2 separate regions of the Homo sapiens genome follow, and region 2 is linked to region 1. Evidence: fine-mapped expression QTL. A gene starts in region 1. The other region holds a variant in brackets. All regions are shown on one strand. Distances are from middle to middle.

What was found. PIP is the estimated chance that this variant, and not a neighbour inherited with it, causes the effect. A credible set is the group of variants that fine-mapping cannot tell apart.
Region 2: its variant is the best candidate, but not a certain one, in a credible set for the expression of POMC in whole blood (INTERVAL, PIP 0.86).

What each region holds. Positions count from the first base shown.
Region 1 is chr2:25,167,362-25,170,344 of GRCh38, forward strand. It overlaps POMC (proopiomelanocortin), which reads right to left and starts at 1,219. Exons shown (of 3, transcript NM_000939.4): 1 at 1,137-1,219. RefSeq lists a promoter at 1,093-1,905, cis regulatory regions at 1,244-1,256, 1,322-1,495, 1,496-1,521 and an enhancer at 1,316-1,335.
Region 2 is chr2:25,127,354-25,129,853 of GRCh38, forward strand. EFR3B (EFR3 homolog B) reads left to right here. Exons shown (of 23, transcript NM_014971.2): 6 at 830-979. Among named protein-coding and RNA genes, the nearest start is that of POMC, 40 kb to the right of the region's middle. The variant G/C (reference allele first, on the strand shown) is at 1,471.

The sequences.
Region 1 (2,983 bases):
ATGAAGAATTTGGGGAATCCAAATGCCAAGTGGACTGTCTCTCCTTCGCTGGAAACGCCCCTTACCTGAGCCTTGATCATTCCAAATGGCTGCCCGTGCCCTCAACCCAGGATCTGCGCCATAAACCGTCCACCCCGGTTCTGTTGAGGGCATCCGAAACTAGACAGTGCGTTTCAGGATCTAGGACAGCTCCCGCCCCGGCCACCTGTTTTTAACCCCAGCTAGGTCTTGGAGAGAAGAGACCCAACTATTCTGCATTGTAATTGACCCAGTTATCATGTAATTATCATAGCGCGGCCACCTCGGGTGCGCTAAGGTGGGCAAGGAAACAAGGATTCAGGGGTCTGAATCCGAAAAAATCCGGAAGGCAGGGCGTTCATTATGACTTTTATCCTTTTCTCTGCTGCCCCGTTTCCAACATTAATTTGCGATAGCGTGTATGGAATTTGACTTTCAAGATGTGACACCTATCCTGGAAACTGGGAGCAAGAGATACTAAAAGACCGGGCTGGCCGGGGGCGGTGGCTCGCGCCTGTAATGCCAGAACTTTGGGGGGCCAAGGCGGGCGGATCACCTGTTGTCGGGAGTTTGAGACCAGCCTGACCAACATGGAGAAACTCCGTCTCTACTAAAAATACAAAAATTAGCCGGGCGTGGTGGCGCATGCCTGTAATCCCAGCTACTCGGGAGGCTGAAGCAGGAGAATCGCTTGAACCCGGGAGGCGAAGGTTGCGGTGAGCAGAGATCACCCCTTTGCTCTCCAGCATGGGCAACAAGAGCGAAACTCCGTCTCAAAAAAAAAAAAAAAGACCGGGTTGTCCCAAGACCTCCTAGCAAGCTCTCGGAGCCTCCGGACCGCCGCGAGCCCCTGGGGGAGAGGAGGCCGCCGGCTCCCTGGAGACAGCGCCTGCAGCTTCGCGGCCGTCCGCCCAGGGGCCGGACGTGGGCCCTCCAGCTCAGCTACTGGCGGCTTCTCATGCCGCAGTCGGCGCAGAAAGTTTGTCGAGAACTCGGGACCGCGGAGAGCCAGAGGCGCCCAGGTCCGCCTTCGGAGCCGGAGCCGGCCGACTGCATCGCGAGGACGGGGACAGGGGATCCCGGGGAAAGAGCACGGGTCCCCCACGCTGCGCCCTTACCTGTCTCGGGAGGCTGCTCTCTGAGGGCGGGGACGCTCGGCGGCCTCTCTCGGTCGCGGCTCTTCTTCCCCTCCTTCGCCGCCGCTTGGTCCCGCGCTCCTCTGTCCTTATATACTTGCCGAGCTCTCCTGGTGGGCGCGGGACTTTGACCTTCCCGGCAGCACAAGGAGCAGCTCCCCGGGCCAGGGGAAGGGGGGCCGCGGGGCGTGGGAGGGGGGCTTCCAGACGGGGGACGAGCGCGGGGAGACGCGCTGGAAAGGGGCTGGAATTAGCACTGTCCTGCCGAAGGCGCACCTGGCCGCTCGCCCTCAGGAAGAACTTAATTATGGATGGCGTTGGGTCTCCGCTTAGAACGGGCGGGAGGCTTAGCACCCCCGTGTGGGGCAGGCCGGGCAGCCTCTGAGGTCGTTGAGGCGAGGGTGAAGTTACCTGCGTGCGTGCTGGGGCTGGCATCTGCCTGGTTCGCATTTGGCGGTAAATATCACCGTCTGCACACGGGGAGGCCTCCGATTTCCCCATTGTTTGGAAACTGTGATGTGGAAGTCGTGGGGAATCATATTCTCTCTGTTCCACTTTGGGGAGGGGAGGAGGGAGCAGAAGTCAGGAGCCGTCTTGTGGGTGTGAAGGTGAGTTGCACTGCTCCCCTGGGGCCTGCTCTCCAAGGGCCTGGTTTAGGGGAGGCTCCCTTCCGTGTCCCAAGCCTCAAGGAAAAAGTCCTGTTAACCTAAACCATTAAATGGGGAGAGGGTGATGCTGTGAAGAGCAGCTGAAGTGCTTTCCCTGTGGCCTCTGATCCCTCCCTTTGCCATGAGCTGGCAGGGTGGTCTGGGGACTCAGACAATTTTCAACATCCCCCTTGGCCCTGGAGTTCTGGCTTGGCTTTAGTTCCAAATATCAGACCAGAGAGAAGAGTACAGCACTCAAACCAAGCTAAGAGACTCTACCTTAACCTGGAGTAAATAAACAAAACCAAATTGTGCGATGTGGTGGGTGTGGGAGGGAGTATTGGGACTAAACTGGACTTCAAATCAAGACACTTGCTTAATCTGCCAAATGCCAGAACTTTCCTGATTCCCCATGAGATGCTCTTTTGGACTCCAGGACTCTCTTGTGGATTCAGCTTTTCTGGTGACATTGGCTTTACATTCAGCAATCCTTTCCCTTTGGACCACAAGAGAGATCCAAGCTCCGTCACAGTAGACAAGGTGCTTCATCACCCGGCTTTGGCCCCTTTCCAGGGCCATTTCCCAGTTCTCCACCTTGCATCCTGGCACTTCAGCATCCACAACATTCACACTGCTAGAACATGGCTTTCTTGGGTCTCCATTGTCCAAGCTGTTCCCCCAACTAGAACATCCTTCCTCTCTCCAGCCATCCAGGAGCTTGACTCACATCAAGATGTAGCCCATCCATCAGCCCCTGTTCTCTGAAGCCCTCTTTGGCCACTTTTCCTACCAGGGGCATGAGGCATGACCTCCTCTGCCTTCCACAGAAGTCCATCCCCATCTTGTCAGTGCAAGTGGCTTGCACTAATTCACTTCTGTCCCCATTTTTTTAATCTTCCATCCACCCCACGACCACCATCAGGTTTGTAAACTCTTTCAAGCAGATGGTGGTTTTGCCTTATTTTACTTTGTGTTATTTTTGTAACTTCAGGAGGCTGCTGGTGGCAGCAGATAAAACAAACCAGGAAAAATCCAAATGGACCCAACTTCTTTAACTGGGTTCCTTCTTTCTTTTCTTCTCTCTCTCTCTCATTCTGTTTGTTTGTTTTTGAATTAGGGTCTCACTCTGTTGCCCAGGCTGGAATGCAGCAGTGTGAACACTGCTCACTGCAGCCTCCACCT
Region 2 (2,500 bases), 40 kb before region 1:
AGCCAATACAAATAAAATATGCAATAGGTTCTTAATTCTGTTATATATTATGCACAGAAGAAAGGAATTACATCAAAATGCCAATAACAGTTATGTTTGATAACAAAGATAACAGTGGTAGTGGTGGTGGTAGTGGTAAATCTTCTCTTCTCTATACTTTTCTATGATTAGTATGTATTATTTTATAACCAGAAAAAAGGTTTTATAAAAAAGAAAGAAAGAAACTTCAGTCTGAAATAAATGGCTAGTAAAGAGGGCTCCCTCCCACAGAGCTGTGCTGACCCTGGGTTCACATAGCAGGGACTGGGGGTGTACAAAAGGGGCTCCTGCTGTGCTGTTACTCAGTTTCCCCTCTGGTTAACCCTAGCTCCAAGCCGACACCCCTTTGTGCCCAGAGAGCCTGCAGCTCTGTGCCTCTCCCTCTGGATCCGCCTCCCCCTGCCCCCGCAAGTTGCTCACAGCCTCGGATTCTGCTTCATCAGTTCTTGGCAGCGTTTTGAGCTCTTACATCTTGGGCCCAAGCTGGAACAACCCCAGCTAAGTACTAAAGATGGGGAGCTGGAGCATCCAGCACCCTAGGGCTGGAGCCCAGATGGTACCAGGGCAAGGGCAGCCTGGGAGTCTCCAAGATGATTAAAAAGACATGGCTTCCTGGGCTCATGTCTGCCAGCACCAGGAGGTCTCATGAGAGTAGCAGCTGGTCTCCATTCTGCCTTCTGATGGACAAATGTATCCCTGACTCCTAAGCTGTGCTCTTCTCTTAGCCACCGAAGCTGGACTTCTCAGGGCTAGAGGACTTCCGAGTCCCACTTCACCCTTTTCCTTACAGAATTCGAATGTCAGGCATCAAAGGCCTGCAAGGGGTGGTGAGGAAGACGGTGAATGATGAACTGCAGGCCAATATCTGGGACCCACAGCACATGGATAAGATCGTTCCATCACTGCTTTTCAATCTACAGCATGTAGAGGAGGCAGAGAGGTAAGCAGGCCGGGATGGGGCAGGACAGTAGATATAATCAACCCTCCAAGGGCTGCTTGGGAACCACATGGTTTGGGTTGGTCAGTAAAACTCAGCTACAAGGCCAGGGACATGGCTTTGTGGCTTGTTCTGCAGTGAGTCCAAAGCTGGCTCCCTAGAAGCCATGGGTCTGACTTTGTGCCAGCCCACAGTGTCCCTTAACATGTGCGTTACCGAAGGAGGACAGTGTTGGTGCTGGGCTCCCTGGTGGGTAAATCTGTTGGTAATAACACACAGAACCAAGAGTCTGGTTACCTTTGTCTCCCTGGAAGCAGGGCCAAGGAGGCTTTAAGATGCCTTTTGTGGGCCGGGCGCGGTGGCTCACGCCTGTAATCCCAGCACTTTGGGAGGCTGAGGCGGGCAGATCACGAGGTCAGGAGATCGAGACCATCCTGGCTAACACGATGAAACCGCGTCTCTACTAAAAAAAAATGCAAAAAAATTAGCTGAGC[G/C]TGGTGGCGGGCGCCTGTAGTCCCAGCTACTCGGGAGGCTGAGGCAGGAGAACGGGAGCCCGGGAGGCAGAACTTGCAGTGAGCCGAGATCGCGCCGCTGCACTTACAGCCTGGGCGACGGAGCGAGACTCCGTCTCAAAAAAAAAAAAAAAAAAAAAAAAAAAAAAAAAAAAAAAAAGATGCCTTTCATGGCTCCGATCACTGCGGACTTTCCATCTGGACCTTCCTTCCTCTGTTGCTTCCTGATGCTATTTCAGGCCCTGAAAACGTGCATGCTTGACCAGCCCGCAGCCACTCAGTAAGAGCTTGCAGATACTGGGTTTTAATCCTGGATCCCCTAAGCATGGGATTCATTCCTGTCCCTGCACCCTCATTTTTCCCCTCGGTGAAATGGAATGGGGAGAAAGGCCCACGTTGCTGTCCCACCTGGGCTATCTGTGCACTAGGCTAGTTAGGTCGGTTGATCCCAGGCTACTAGAGCTAGACTCGGGTCGACGGGGGCGGGGGCGGGGGCGGGGGCGGGGGCGGGGCGTGGGGTGGGGCGTGGGGTGGGGTGGGGTTCGTATGCCATCTGGTGGCTGTTTCTGGAATAGCATCTCACTGACAAGCTGCTGTGGTCTCTGGGCTGGGAGTCCTCCGGCTCCTGTTCTGTCCAGATGTGGGCCCACTCCCTGTGACTTGAGTATCATTGACTCTTGCCTGAGCCAACCACTGTGCCTTTCCTTTTCCCTCCCTCTCTTTCCTCTCCTTTCTTCCACTTCTGTTTTGTTTTTTGCCTCCCTTTCCTATCTTCATCTCCCATCTCCTTTTCCTTCTGAAGTCTTAGGTGCATCAAGACACACATGTTCTACACCTCACCTGGCCCATGGGGCTCAGAGCATCCTTCCCACAGTGGTACATCTGGAAATCTTTAAGGATTTCCAGAAAAAGAACTTTATCTTTTCTTCTCCGGTCTTCCCCCACTTCCCCCAGTGGGGGCTTCTTTACCCCCATTTAATTTCTGACAGCTGTGACGCCTCCCCTATTGCCT